2 separate regions of the Homo sapiens genome follow, and region 2 is linked to region 1. The links come from fine-mapping of genetic effects on gene expression. Tissue or cell type: whole blood. Region 1 holds a variant in brackets; the other region holds the start of a gene. All regions are shown on one strand. Distances are from middle to middle.

Evidence for each region. PIP is the estimated chance that this variant, and not a neighbour inherited with it, causes the effect.
Region 2: TMEM33 starts here. The variant in region 1 is fine-mapped to the expression of TMEM33 in whole blood (INTERVAL, PIP 0.95).

Annotation. Positions count from the first base shown.
Region 1 is chr4:41,969,551-41,977,658 of GRCh38, forward strand. No RefSeq gene overlaps it. Among named protein-coding and RNA genes, the nearest start is that of DCAF4L1, 8.2 kb to the right of the region's middle. The variant T/C (reference allele first, on the strand shown) is at 3,368.
Region 2 is chr4:41,930,933-41,939,040 of GRCh38, forward strand. It overlaps TMEM33 (transmembrane protein 33), which reads left to right and starts at 4,497. Exons shown (of 7, transcript NM_018126.3): 1 at 4,497-4,597; 2 at 7,670-7,764. The coding sequence starts at 4,553. LOC105374426 (a long non-coding RNA gene) reads right to left here and starts at 3,743. Exons shown (of 3, transcript NR_188374.1): 1 at 3,674-3,743. RefSeq lists enhancers at 4,337-4,516, 4,757-4,806, 4,817-4,886.

The DNA of each region.
Region 1 (8,108 bases):
AAGACTTGGTCTTTTGAATTCATGCTGGAGTGAGTTAAGGCTTTGGGGGTCTGTTGGGAAGGCATGATTGTGTTTTGAAATGTGAGGACATGAAATTTGGGAGGGGCCACGGTTGGAATGATATAGTTTGGTTGCTTCCCCACCCAAATCTCATCTTGAATTGTAGCACCCATAATCCACATGTATCATGGAGGGATCTGGTAGAAGGTAATTGACCTCCATGCTGTTCTCATGATAGTGAGTTCTCATGAGACCTGATGGTTTTATAAGGGGCTTTCCTCCCCTTCACTCTGCACTTCTCCTTGCTGCCTCCATGTGAAGAAGGGTGTATTTACTTCCCCTTCTGACATGATTGTGAGTTTCCTGAGACTTCCCCAGCCATGCTGAACTGTGAGTCAATTAAATGTCTTTTCTTTATAAATTACCAGTCTTGGGTATGTCTTTATATAGCAACATGAGAACAGACTAATACAATCTATAATTAGAACAATTCTGTGAATTGCTTTATTGAATAAATTGAGTAGTTAACATAATTTCCCACATATTTATATTCCAAAGGATTAGAAAATAACTATTCTTCAGATACTTTCTGGTAATTGATGTTTGTAATGATGACCACCCCCTGTCTTGTTCCCTCCCAGATAGTCTAAAATTTTGAATTGTCAAAATTTAAATTTTGGAGACACATGATATTGTGATATAATGATAACAGGAATGAATAAAGATCAGATACCAGACTTCAGTATTAATTACATACAGCTCTGTGACCTTGGGTAACAAATTTAACCACTCTGAACATCTGTTTCCTCTTGTAAAATTTGGAGAGTAATATTGAATGAAAATAATTTTGTGTGGTGGAAGGTTCTCTCCCCTACCACTCTCTTCCATTTTCTAGAATGTTGAATCTCTCAAGGCTATCTTAATAGAAGGGTGTGTTTTTGGCCAGAACACAACTGTAATCACAACTGTAATCCCAGTTGTCTCACAACTGTAATCCCAGCACTTTGGGAGTCTGAGGTGGGAGGAGTACTTGAGTCCAGGAGTTTGAGACCTGCCTGTGCAACATAGCAAGACCCTGTTCTGTACAAAAATAAATAAATAATTAGTTGGGCATGGTGGCATGTGCCTATAGTCCCAGCTACTGGGGGAGGCTGAAGTGGGAAGGTTGCTTGAGCCTGGGAGGTCAAGGCTGCACTGAGCTGTGATTGCACCACTGCACTCAGCTTGGGTGACAGAGTGAGACCTTGTCTCAATTTAAAAAATATAAATAAATAAAGGATGGGTTTTGATATTGCCTAAGATAGTAAAGCAGAAAAAGCATCAGTGTAATGAGGAAAAATATCTAATTGCATCAGATATTTACATGGGGGGCAGACCCCCATGACAACTTTTCCCCTCTGCCTCATGCACACTCATGTTCTGAAACCTGACTGCTATGAATAGCAGAACCAGTCTGAGTAGAGAAATACTGACAACATCCTTTGGAGACAAGACTCAAGAAGAGCTGGAGCAGGGACTTCAAGGAAGGAGTGAGTACTGTATATCAAAAGAACTAAGAGACTGTGTGTGTGTGTGTGTGTGTGTGTGTGTGTGTGTGTGTGTGAATTAGCACTGTCCAATAGAAATATAATGCAAGGTACTAATGTGAGCCATATATGTAATTTTAAATTTTCTATTAGCCACATTAAAAACAGTAAAAAGGTGAAGTTAATTTTTATAATATATTTTATTAAACCCAATATATCAACAATATATTTCAGCAATAATTAACATAAAAGTTAACATATTTCACATTTTTTCATACTAAGTCTTTGAAATTTGGTATGGTATTCTTATATCATATTAGACTAGCTATATATCAAATATTTATGTACATATTCCATAGGTACATACGGCTAGTAGCTAAGATACTGGACGGTACAAATATTGAGGGTATGAAGGGGATTGTTGGAGATTCTCTGGTAACCATGGTGTCATTTCACAGTGCTCCCCCAGAGTCTAGGACAAACACCCTGTGTCTGTGAATGGAACTTAGGGATAAGTTGAAGAGATCAAAAGAGTGATTCTAGGCTCATTGGCTTGTGGATTTGTGGACCTTGTGTAGTTTGGATTATATGGCCTGAGAATGAAATTGTGAATGAACATTCTTGGAATTTTGTGTGTATATGTAATTGGCCAACATCAAGACCACCTTTTCCTTCTGTAATGTGGTGTATTGGTCATCATGGGCTGCCATAACAAAATGCCACAGACTGGATGGTTTAACAACCAAAATGTATTTTCCCAGAGTTCTGGAACCTAGGAAGTCTAAGTTCAAGGTGCCAGCAAGATAGGTTTCATTCTGAGGCCTCTTCCCTTGGTTTGTTGGGAGTTACCATCTCACCGTGCACTCACATGGCCTTTCCTCAGTGTGTGTGTATGCAGAGATAAATAGATATCTCTCTGTCTTCCTCTTAAAAGGCCACTAGTCCTATTGGATTAGGGTGCCTAATATGGGTGTGCGTCCCCACCCAAATCTCATCTTGTATCTCCCATAATTCCCACGTGTTATGGGAGGAACATGGTGGGAGTCATTTGAATCATAGGGGTGGCTCTTTCCTGTGCTGGTCTTATGATAGTGAATAAGTCTCACTAGATCTGATGGTTTTAAAGAATGAGTTTCCCTGCACAAGCTCTCTCTTTGCCTGCTGCCATCCATGTAAGATATGACTTGCTCCTCCTCGCTTTTTGCCATGAGAGTGAAGCCTCCCCAGCCATGTGTAGCTGTAAGTCCATTAAACCCTTTTTTCTGTATAAATTATCCACTCTTGGGTATGTCTTTATCAGCTGCATGAAAACAGACTAATACAGTAAATTGGTACCAGTAGAGTGGGGTGTTGTTGAAAATATACCCAAAAATGTGGAAGAGACTTTGGAACTGGGTAACAGGCAGAGGCTGGAACTGTTTGGAGGGCTCAGAAGACAGGAAAATGTGGGAAAGTTTGGAATTCCCTTGAGACTTGTTCAGTGGCTTTGACCAAAATGCTGATAATGCTATGGACAATGAAATCCAGGCTGAGGTGGTCTCGGATGGAGATGAGGAGCTTGTTGGGAACTGGAGCAAAGGTGATTCTTGTTATGTTTTAGCAAAGAGACTGGCAGCATTTTGCCCCTGCCCTAGAGATTTGTGGAACTTTGAACTTGAGAGACATGATTTAGGGTATCTTGTGGAAGAAATTTCTAAGCACCAAAGCATTCAAGAGGTGACTTGGGTGCTGTTGAAAGGCATTCTGTTTCAAAAGGAAAACAGAGCATAAAACTTTGGAAAATTTGCAGCCTGACAATGCAATAGAAAAGAAAATCTTATTTTCTGAGGAGAAATTCAAGT[T/C]GGCTGCAGAAATTTGCATAAGTAATGAGGAACCGTATGTTAATCACCAAGACAATGGGGAAAATGTCTCCAGGGCATGTCAGAGACCTTTGCAGTAGCCCCTCCCATCACAGGCCTAGGAGGAAAAAGTGGTTTCGTGGGCCAGGCCCAAGGTCCTTGTGCTGTGTGTAGCCTGGGGACTTGGTGCCCTGCCTCCCAACTGCCTCAGCCATGGCTGAAAGGGGCCAACATAGATCTTGGACCTTGGCTTCAGTTGGTGCAAGCCCAAAGCCTTGGCAGCTTCCACGTTGTATTCAGCCTGTGAGTGCACAGAAGTCAGGAATGGGGGTTTGGGAACCTCTGCCTAGATTTCAGAAGATGTATGGAAACACCTGGATGCCCAGGCAGAAGTGTGCTGCAGGGGTGGACCCCTCATAGAGAACCTCTGTTAGGTCAGTGTGGAAGGGAAATATGGGGTTGGAGCCCCCACACAGAGTCCCTACTGGGGCACTGCCTAGTGGAGCTGTGAGAAGAGGGCCACCATCCTCCAGACCCCAGAATGGCAGGTCCACTGACAGCTTGCACCCTGCACCTGGAAAAGCTGCAGACACTTAAAACCAGCCCGTGAAAGCAGCCAGGAGGGAGGCGGTAACCTGCAAAGCCACAGGGGCAGAGCTGCCCAAGACCATGGGAACCCACCTCTTGCATCATTGTGACCCGATGCAAGGCATGAAGTCAAAGGAGATCATTTTGGAGCTTTAAGATTTGAGTGCCCTGCTGGATTTTGGATTTGTGTGGGGGGCCTGTAGCCCCTTTGTTTTGGCTAATTTCCCCATTTGGAACAGCTGTATTTACCAATGCCTGTACCCCCATTGTATCTAGGAAGTAACTAACTTGGTTTTGATTTTACAGGCTCATAGACAGAAGGGACTTTCCTTGTCTCAGATGAGATGTTGGACTGTGGACTTTTGAGTTAATGGTGTAATGAGTTAAGACTTTGGGGGTACTGCTGGAAAGGCATGATTGGTTTTGAAGTGTGAAGACATGAGATTTGGGAGGGGCCCAGGCGGAATGGTATGGTTTGGCTCTGTGTCCCCACCCAAATCTCATCTTGTAGCTCCCATAATTCCCATGTGTTGTGTGAGGAACCCAGTGGGAGATATTTGAATCATGGGGGTGGGTCTTTTCTGTGCTGTTCTTGTGATAATAAGTCTCATAAGATCTGATGGTTTTAAAAAACGGGAGTTTCCCTGCACAGGCTCTCTTTTTGCCTGCTGCCATCCACGTAAGATGGAACTTGCTCCTCCTTGCCTTTTGCAATGATAGTGAGGCCTCCCCAGCCACATGGAACTGTAAGTCCATTAAACTCTTTTACCTATATAAGTTACCCAGTCTTGGGTACGTCTTTTATCAGCAGCATGAAAATGGACTAATACAGTGCCATTTTGACTTCATTTAACCTTAATTACCTCCTAAAGGCCCTTTCTCCAAATACAGACATACTAGAGGTTAGGGCTTCAACATAGGAATTTTGTGGGGGCCTACTCAGTCCATAGCATATGGGCTTAGTGTTCAAGAAACATATGTAGAAAGTATTTTATAACTAAGAAAGTGAAACTTAGGTGATGGTGGAATCCTGCTTCAGAGTATAGTTGTGATGTAGCACTTTGTGAGTTACAGAATCTGGCTGTGTTCAAGGATGGATGTTAAAGTGTTTTATAAACTCTAGTGCTATTTAAAATGTTTGGCGATATTACTAGATTACTATGTCTTGCACATAGTGCTGAAAATAAATACTTTAAAAAATGAATTTGGCATGGTAATGATGATATATTTTATTACATGCATCAGATAGTGTTGACTCTAAAGCTCTATATCAATATATCAATGTTGGGGGTTTATAGCACCACTAATAATGTTTTAGTACATATTTCTGGCTTTTGATTCTTAGAAACCACATTAAATCATATATGCTAATTCTAGTTGTCAGAAGCATTAGGTCATCAGAATGTCCCCAAAACAATCCATGAACAAATTGTGTCAGTTATACCTTCAAAATATATTCAGAAATACCCAGGCACAGTTTGCACACATGTAATCCCAGTTACTTAGGAGGCTAAGGAAGGAGGACTGCTTGAACCCAGGAGTTCAAGACCAGGTAGGGAAACATGGTGAGACCCCATCTCAAAAAAACAGAAACAAAAAACAAACAAACAAACAAACAAATCTAACATATATCCACAATCAGATTCTCTCTTCACCCAGCTCAATTATCACTGTGAATAAACAACCTTCATGTCTTACCTCGATTATTCCAGTAGCTTCCTCACTTTTCTCTTCTGCTTTTGCCTGCCTCTCCCCAATTTGTCTTGATACAGCAACCACAATAATTCTGTTAAATCATACATCAGAATATGTCTCCTTTGCACAAAACCCTTCTGTGGCTTCTACTCTCAGAGCTCTTGCAGTGACCAACAAACGCCTCTTGATCACACTTCTTGTTCCTCATCTCCTACTACTTATTCCCTCATTTGCTGTGTTCCAGCCACACTGGCTTTTTGCTCTTTTTTGAATTTGCCAAGTACAAAAGTACTCCTCCTACCTAGAATGTTGTCTTAGATATCAATTTGACTCATTCCTTTACCTCCTTCAGATCTTTATTCAAATGTCACCTTGGTGAGTCCTCTCCTCACCTCCCTATTTAAATATACTACACCCACTTCCACACTGACATTTCTTTTTTCCTGCTTGATTTTTCTCTATAGTACTTATTGCCATATAGTGCCTATCATAATGCACATAGCATTATCACACATTTGTTTATTTTGTTTCTCATTTGTGTCCCCACCAGAGTGTAAGCTTCATTAGGACAAGAATCATTTTTTGTTTTATTCATTGTTAAAAACCAGTTCCTGGAACGTAGTAGGCACTCAATAAATACACATTGAATGCTTGAAACAAAACTTACTCTAGTTAAACAGAAGAAGAATTTTTTTTAAAAGGATATTAGGTATTTAAAAGTCTGGATGGAGTAGGGAATCAGGCTTGGAAGCTGTCTAACCAGGAATAATGCAGTTTCCATTGGGAACAGTCACCACTATTACTGGGACACTCCCCTGGACGTGTGTCCTTACCACCTCCACTGGTTGTATTTTGCCTTACGCCTCTTCCCTTGCAGAATATGTTCCTTGAGATGCCTTACTTTTCCCATTACTTTATTTCAAATTGTAGCTTCTCATAGATGTTCTGATGGTTGGTTGGTGGTTTGTCACATGCGTGGGCCCTTGCTCCAAAGGAGCCCAGGAGAGCAAGTTCCAGCCTTCTACTTTGGGGAGGTAGGCTCACAGGTAGGACATTCCCCAGATATTGGAAGTATGTTCAAAATATGCTGTGCAGTCACAAAATATAAATGCTCTTCACTGGCACTGAGTGCTATCATTAAAAAAAAAATCTAGCTCAGGAGACCTGAAGTTATTTTAAAATTGTATGTGTAATCCAGAATCCATTTCCCATAGCAATTGTTAAACAATGTCTGCTTTCAAATTTATTATTCTTCATTCCTGACCTTGTTCTAAGCTTAACCAATCACATATTTTCTCATTTGACATCCCAGTGATTAATAGCTGAAACCCATTGCCTGGAGAATGGTTTCCATTGTGATGTGGTACTCCTTGGGTGGAGAGTGGGATGAACAGGCAACAGAATGCTTTGTTTATGGAAAAGGAATAAGAGTGTGAGTCCATTATCAGAAAATGCAGCAAGGGTGTAAAATATTGGGCTGCCATGTTAGAGCTCACCTGTTACCATAAAAACCTCTGTACTCAGCAGCTGGGTCAGTGGGAAGCCTGCTGCCCAGTTCGAATGGTATATTGAATTATATGACCAGTCTTGGCATCAGTTTAACATATTTTTAAGTAACTTTTATTTTTTCTTCCTTTCTTTTAGTTCCTTTTTTTTTTCTTGCAAGTAGGAAGCAGGAATGACTGTTCAATTATTAGATATTCAAGTTTAGAATTCACTGTCATTACTGCACAATTCATTTGCTGAAATAACAAGTAGCAGATGCTACAGTGCAAGTTAATGAATAATTCTTATTTGTACTCTGGCCTTTCATTGCAATTCATTTGTTACAGACATGTGGGTTTAGTAATTATTATTCTCACACTTTCTAAAATGTTTTTAGCTTTTTAAAAAGCATTTTGCTCATTTTTTTATTTCCTTCTGTTTGTTTCATTCTATTTATTAAATTCTCCCATTTATCCCAATTGTTTGGGAAGTCTCATGGCTCTTTATGGTTCTCTTCTGAGAGGAATATGAAATACTTCAATTGATTTGTTCCTTATTGCAAATAAGCCAAAGCCATGGCTCATTTACCATTACCGGGTTTGTTTACCATTTCACAGGCACACTTGAGGCCTCAGCTTTCAAGGGCATGTTTTCAGCCTGTTACAAACCATGCTTGGCCTTCCTTCTCTAAAGTCTGCTCCTTCCTAACCAGGAAACAGGGCAGGAATGGAATTTTCTTCCCATTCCAGTTTCTCTTTAGCTGCTTGTGTCCAGAAGTTGATATGGCATAGCTAAAATTAATACCTGAATTGACCCAGTTCACCTTCTGTTTTAGAAACAACAACAACAAAAAAATTGGCTAAAAAGTAAAGGCCTGGGTATTTTTAGAAAGAGCAATAATTAGTGTAAAATGTCACAGAAATATAATACGTTTAGATTCATGTCAGACAAAAGTTATTTCCAGGAAGCTTCTCAA
Region 2 (8,108 bases), 39 kb before region 1:
TTTTAAAATGCCGACAAATCAATAATAATGGACCACAACAAAAGACAAACAGCTCAATAGAAAAGAGGCAACAGAGGCCAGGCACAGCGGCTCACGCCTATAATCCCAGCACTTTGGGAGGCTGAGGCGGGTAGATCACGAGGTCTGGAGTTTGAGACCAGCCTGGCCAACATACTGAAACCCCATCTCTACTAAAAATACAAAAAATTAGCCCAGCGTGGTAGCAGGCACCTGTAATCCCAGCTACTTAGGAGGCTGAGGCAGGATAATCATTTGAACCTGGGAGGTGGAGGCTGCAGCAAGTCGAGACTGCGCCATTGCACTCCTGCCTGGGCGACAGCTCAAGACTGTGTCTCAAAAAAAAAAGCCAACAGGAGAGAAAATCTGAATGGCCAATAAAGTTGTGAAAAGATGCTAAGCCTCACTACTACTCACGAAAATGCAAATTGAAAAAATGACATACCATTTTATATACCTAATCTTGGTAAGAACTAAAAATAGCAAATTTTGGCAGGGATTAGGGCTATTCTCATACACTAAATACAACTACTTAGGAGAGTAAACTTGCAATTATTTTAATATGCAAAGTTGAAGATATGTGTCTTAGTTGTTTCACTTTCATTTTACTCTTTAACAAAAATATCAAGAAACATTCATGAAATTACACTCATTCATCAATGGCAACTGTATATTGCTATGGATATAAGAGTTCAGCAAAATCAAAAGAAGTATCTGTGAGATTAATTAGCTATATGGAATTTACAATAGAGAACATTTTGTATTTTAATATTTTTGTAATAAGATGATCCTTTAAATCAGTAAAAAAATATGTACTTACATACATATATATAAAATATATATAGCTATGGACTGAATTGTGTCCCTCAAAATTCATATGTCAAGACCCTAACCCTCATGTGACTGTATATATTTGGAAACAGGATCTTTAGGAAGTAATTAAGGCTAACTTAAGTTATAAGGATGGGGTCCTAATCCGATAGAACTGGCGACCTTATAAGAAGGGGAAGAGAGGAAGACAGAGATCATTTACCTCCTCCTAAATTGAGCACACAGAAAATGGCAGCTGCCAGCGGCTAAAATGAAACTTACCTTGTTGGCACCTTAATCTTAAACCTCTCAGTCTCCAGAACTGTGAGAAAACAAATTTGTGTTGCTTATGCTACCCACTTTATGGTATTTCGTTATGACAGCCTGAGTTGACTGCCATAGACACACACAAACACACACACTGGCAAGGAGACATATAATTCTAAGAAATGTTAAAAAATGTAACTGCTATAAAAATATGGAGTAAATGATATGGGAAGAGTGCAGAGGAGGTGGCATTTTAGCTCAGCTAGGAGGATGAGTAATCCAGGCTAGAGATCTGAAGGACCTGAACTTGGGCAGTGGCCTTAGAAAAAGAGGTTTGTACTGTTTCAAGAGAACCCCATTTGATTTCTCGGCTGCATCTGACTAGCACCTGGTCTGCCCATGGATACTAGAGGATAACCACACATCTGACAGAGGAAGAGCATTACAGTCTCATGGTTTTCCGACAGGGTGCCAGCTTTCCCGTGGGTCCCCAGTCCACTCCCTCTCCCTAGCCCCTTCATATTTGATTCTCAATCTACTGCTCTTCTCATGCATTTTTTTCTACACTTCTTCAGGTCTCAGCAGATGGCATTCCCCTTCCTACACACCCATACCTAGTTAGTCACCACATCTTAGAAGCCACCTCCAAGTCATCTTTCCTCTTCTTTTCCCCAACAACACTGCCTCAATCCAGAATCTCATCACTTCTTTCCTACACGTATGTGTTAACTTAAAACTCACAAGATCTATATGTTCAGAAAAGGAGACTTTATTTCTTATAAGGAGATACAGCCTGCAAGGTGGCCCTCTCATGGGCTGGGAAGCACAGCCTCCAGCAAGGACCAGAGACAGGCACTTTAAAGGAAGAGGAGCTGGGGTAGGAGCTTTATGCTGAATAGGTTGGCTAAACATACATATTCAACAGGTTACAGGAAGAGCTATGAATATTCATAAAAGTAGTCCTGATACATGCGTATGGAACAACATGCATGTTACATACAACCTGTGTTCACCTTGGGGTGGAGACTTAATATTTAATGTATTACAGTTAGGCTCTGTACCTCAAAAGGTGAAGCAGAGACGAAGGCACACAAGTGCATGGCCTCTGTAAAGTGGCCAGAACCAGCCTATGGTCAGTGGTCTTATCTGGAGAACGTTACTGAAATCAGTCTCTTGTGCAATCAAAGCTGTAGCTATGGTTGGTATAGCAGGGGTTCAGTTAGTGTCTGTGAGCTGGATTAGTTGTAATTGTTTTAATATTGCTTCTCTCTAGGCCAGTGGTTGTTTAGCTGCCAGAGGGAAAAAAAAAACCTCTTGTGGTAGAACATAGTTTATTTTTTAAGTGTAGGGGGTGCATGACTTAACCCTTGCCTGGCATGGCCTTAGGTCCTGTTTATAATTTGGTATCCTATTCCCACAAAGAGTTTGTTCTGTCAATGTTATGATCTTTATTGTAACATTAACATGTTAAACATAGGCTGACTTCCTAGAACTAATTTGAAAGGAAAACCCTAACTTTCCACGCCTAAGTAGTTGCTAGTCAGTTGTGTCTAAACTACAAAAGGGAGGGGGTATAATGAGGCATGTCTGATCTCCTGTCCCATCATGGCTGGGGTCCCCTTGGCCAAGAAAGGGATCTATCCAGTCAGTCGACAGACCCCTTACTTAGGATTTTATTTTTAGTTTATATATATATAAATGGCTTCACAACGAATTTCCTGACTTTTAATTTGCCCCTCTGTTCATCCTCCACCCTGTTGCCAGAGAGAACTTTCTAAATCTCAGGATGTCACACTTCTGATTAAAATTGTTCCATGGTTCTCTGGATTTCAGGGTCAAGTTCAGATCCTTTCCTCAGTACACCCCTGCCTGCCTCTCTAGCGCAAATCTTTCACAATCCCCTGACTGGTACCATCATTCTGGTCACACTCAACTAGTCCTCTCGCTGTCCTGTTACTTCTTGCACTTTCTGTTACTCTGTATGGAGTTCCCTTCCCGTTTTAAGGCAGAAGAATATGGTATGGCGGTAGGGAACCTAATGCCCTTTCTCGCTGACTTCCTAGAACTAAATTGAAGGAAAATCCTTACTGTCCACGCTTAAGTGAATAAAGGGCCAGATACTACTCCCTTTGCAAGCCCCAACCTGTTCTGCGCAGATTTGGGAAATTGAAAGTACCTCTGATTGGTTGCTTTTTGTAACCAATCAGACGTTTGCATAGAAGTGTAACTTTGTAACTTCTTCAGCCTCTGATTGGTTGCTTTGCGCAACCATTCAGACTGATTGCGGGCCACCACTTCATTTACATGAAGTGAACTCCAAGTGGCCAATGGGAAACCTCTAGGGGGTATTTGGACCCGAGAAGACTCTGTATCCAGGGCCCTTGAGCTGCTGTCTCACTCTCCCACACTCTGGAGTGTACTTTCATTTTCAACAAATCTCTGCTTTTGTTGCTTTATTCTTTCCTTGCTTTGTGCGTTTTGTCCAATTCTATGTTCAAAACGCCAAGAACTTGGACACCCTACACCAGTAACACTTTCAGCCAACTTTTTGTCGTTCAAGATCAAGGCCCGGACTTACCTTTTCCAGGAAACCTCCCCAGATCCCTTCTGATTTAGGTACCGTCCTCTGTGCTCCCTGTGATTAAATCAGCCTCTACACATATTACACAATCACTATGCTCTGATTTCCGTTTACTTGTTTCTCTTTTGCAATCTGTGTCATATTCCTCTTTTTATCCGCCGTGCCAAGTATGGAGCCTGTCACATAGCAGGCCTCATAAATACTTATTGAAAGAATTAATAATAGACGTAGAACCAACGGGCTTAGTAAGCCCCTGGAGAAAGGAATCAAAGATGTTTCTGAGGCCTCTATATCAGGAAGTGCGGAAATTTCATGGTTTGAGAATGGGCAGGAAAGATCATTTGTGAGCTGTATTTAATGCAAAAGTTGCTCCCCCATCCTGATTTCTTAGCTCACTGGGCCAATCGGCGGAAGGACAGGTGGGGCTCAAATTAGGAGAAAAAAACCACACTTCCCGTCATGCCTCTGGGCACCGCTCCCGTTTCCCCCTCTTTGTCACCGCCTCTTCCCCACGGAAATGAAAGGAGCACTTCCGGGTTCGGCAATAACCTGGAGCCGGCGGCGTAGGTTGGCTCTTTAGGGCTTCACCCCGAAGCTCCACCTTCGCTCCCGTCTTTCTGGAAACACCGCTTTGATCTCGGCGGTGCGGGACAGGTACCTCCCGGCTGCTGCGGGTGCCCTGGATCCAGTCGGCTGCACCAGGCGAGCGAGACCCTTCCCTGGTGGAGGCTCAGAGTTCCGGCAGGGTGCATCCGGCCTGTGTGTGGCGCGAGGCAGGGAAGCCGGTACCCGGGTCCTGGCCCCAGCGCTGACGTTTTCTCTCCCCTTTCTTCTCTCTTCGCGGTTGCGGCGTCGCAGACGCTAGTGTGAGCCCCCATGGCAGATACGACCCCGAACGGCCCCCAAGGGGCGGGCGCTGTGGTAAGTGCGAGGGCAGGGTAGTCTGGCTTGATTTGCAAGAGTTAGGAAGAAGCAGGAAGCGTTGCGAGTCCCGAGGCGTTCCAGAAGCTCAGTGCATTCAGGAATGGGATTAATGAGTTGGGGTGGGGAAGTTGGAGCGGGGAGAGGGGAGGTCCTGAGCGAAGATATGGAGGGAACTACAAGTTTGTTTCTGAAGCGACAATAGGCTGACCTGGAGCTGGTGGCCCCCACCTGTATGCCATGGAAATTGGGCCTTCTTTCCTCTTCTCCCACCTCGGTCTTTTGTTTACCGTAGGCCCCAAGGTTAAAGATGCCGCATGAGATTGTGCCATGACACACATGATCCATGACACACACCACGTGGAGCACACGAGTGCCGGCAAAGAACGTTTCTGCCTAGTTTATACAATCGTATATAGAAATTATGCAAAGGGAGGAGAGCGGTGGTCTTTTTCTTCTTCACTTTGTTCTTTATGAAGAGAAATATCATTATGCTTTTGTAATTTTTTTAAGATGCTGATCTGGAGCTAACAAGTTATTTGTGCCCGGAGCATTGCTGTCCTCTACTTTTTAATCCATAAGTAGTTAAGTATTATTCTGTGTGACCACAATGCAGTTACCACATTTGGGAAATATTACCTAATATAAAATCCATGTGCAAATTTCCATAATTGTCCTTTAAAGCTGCTTTCTCTTCATCTGGGATTCTGTCAAAAAGCATGCATCGATGGGCTGGCGCAGTGGCTCACTCCTGTAAGCCCAGAACTTTGGGAGTCCAAGGCGGGAGGATCGCTTGAGTTCAGGAGTTAGAGACCAGCCTTGGAAACATAGCGAGACCTCATCTCTACTAGAAATCAAAGAAATTAGGCGGGGCGTGGTGGCTCACGCCTGTAATCTCAGCACTTTGGGAGGCCAAGGCGGGTGGATCGCTTGCGCCCGAGAAGTTGAAGCTGCCGTGAGCCAAGATCGCGCCACTGCACTCCAGCCTGGGTGATAGAGCAAAACCTTCTCTCAAAACAAACAAACAAACAAACAAACATAAATTAGCCGGTCGTGGAGGTGCGCTCCTATAGTCCCAGCATAGTCCCAGCTACTCAGGAGGCTGAGGTGGGTTGTGCTTTTGCGCTCCAGCCTGGGGTGACAGAGCGAGACCCTATCTCAGAAAGCATGCATTCAATTTACTGGCCATATCTTGTTTACTGCCTTTTAATCTAGAACAGTTCTGCCCTCTCCTCCCCTTTTTTGTCTTTTAAGATACTGATAGTTTTCAAGAGTCCAGACATGTTTTGCAGCATATATAGGTACATCTAATATGTATATCTATATTATATATCAGGAAGCATTTTACATTGATTTATCCCATCATTGCAGAATTTGTTTGATTATTTGATTAAGGTGGTGTCCACCAGTTTCTCCATTGTAAAGATACCTTTTTTCCTTTCTAATTAAAAAGTGTTCTTTGGCATGATACTGTGACACTGTGTGAATATTGCTCCTCAACAATTTTTCACCCAAAGATCTAGTGATTTTTTTTTTTTTTTGCCTGATGGTTGGACAGTTTACTCTTAAAAAATGTATACCAATAGACTTTCTTAAACTTTTAAAATTGTATAATATACATAAGTGTGTACAAAATGAAACGCATAGCTCAATGATTTATTGCAGAATAAACAACCTGAACAAATAGATTTTAAGGAGAATGTTCTAAAACTAACTTTCAAGCTGTGGTGCCCAGTCATAATATTTGTTGAGAAACTGAGCACAGTAAGCTGGATTCATCCTTCACTTGATTACTGCTAATCATTTCAGTTTATTGGAGTCACAGTACGGTAAGTCTGGATTTAATGATAAATCAAAGTTGTATTTCATATTTCTGAAATTACCTACATGTGGGTTAAAAAGACATAAAATAAAACAGCCTGGAATTTTACAATGTACTTGGATTTTTCCCTCAAATTTTTTATATTTTTTTTTCAAAAGATAATGAAATTAAATTACATAGAGCAGTGTTTTTAGACTTCAGGTAGACCCATTAGTGAGTTGAGAAGTCAGTTTAGTGTAAACACCAGCTATTTTTAAAAAATTAAATAGAAAATGTCAAAATCCATTATATACAGTAGGGTAAATATTTGTGAAACTTTTGTTTATATATCCATGTATATGGATCTCAATGTTAAAATTACGAAGATCCTAGACAAAAAATGTAAAAGCCACTTTTGAATATAAGATACATTTTAATGAGAAAACACATTTTAAGATTCTGCTTTAGTGGTAATAGACATAAGTATTGGGGGGAAAGCAGCAAAGGAAAGATAGAATGGGAAAAAAATGGGGGAAGAAAATGGTATAGGAAAGTTTAATCTAGGACCACCGAAACTAGGGTAAGACTTGTGGGGGAACATGGAGGTGATAAAGAGAGTGGTGTAATCAGAGAGGCAGGTGGCCATTTAATACCTGTCAGCCACATTTTGAGCACCTAGAGTATGCCAGGCCCTTGTGCATGTAGGCAGATTACAAGGCGAATGAGTTTAGTTGTTACTACTATCATGGTTTTATATTTCTTCTTCAAAAGGTTTCTTTAATCCCAACTGGCTTTATGTGATGTTTTACTCAGCTCTGAGACCTACCTATTCGGATTTGAGATTTTTTGCTAAGAATAGGCATATGGATCTCTTGAGAGCAATTAGTTTTTGTTTAATGTTCTTTTAAAATAGATGAAGCCAATATTGCAAGTGTTAAAGGAACACAGACAATTGTAGTTGAATTTCTGTTAAGATTATTTTTTCTAATTAATTAGTCTTTGCATTTTTTTAAAATGTCAGCTGATATTTTTCTATTTATTTCTGTTTAAGTACTTCTTGTGCTTTCCACATGAAAACTATAAGGTGTTTGGACTTCTCATTAAGCATATACATGAAACATGTAATTGCCTTAGAGTTTTCACCTAATGATCTAAAAAAACAAATGGAGGAAGATTAAAATATTTTGAGTAGACATAAAAACCACACAGTCTTGATGCTTAAAAACATGATTTGCAGGCATAGCTTACAGTATTTTTCTTTTTAAATTTAGCAATTCATGATGACCAATAAACTGGACACGGCAATGTGGCTTTCTCGCTTGTTCACAGTTTACTGCTCTGCTCTGTTTGTTCTGCCTCTTCTTGGGTATGTATTATACATATTGCTGCCTTTGATATTCAATTGTTGAGTCAGTTTATATGGAGTGCCTTTTAGGTGTAAGACTTATTAACCTGTAAAGGGTTTAGGGACAAATAAAATACAAGTTCCAGCCTTCAGGTACTAACAACCTAATAACATTATCAGAGGAATATTTTATATCTTGTGCTTTGTGAAACTAACACATTGAAAATCCAAGGAAAAATTGATGTGTGGGAATGAGATAAGTTCATGTTTTTTTCATTTTTACTTATTACTTGACAGGAAGGTCCTGCTTTATAAAATTCAATTTTATAAATTGATTATAAGAAATTCAGTTGGGCATATATATG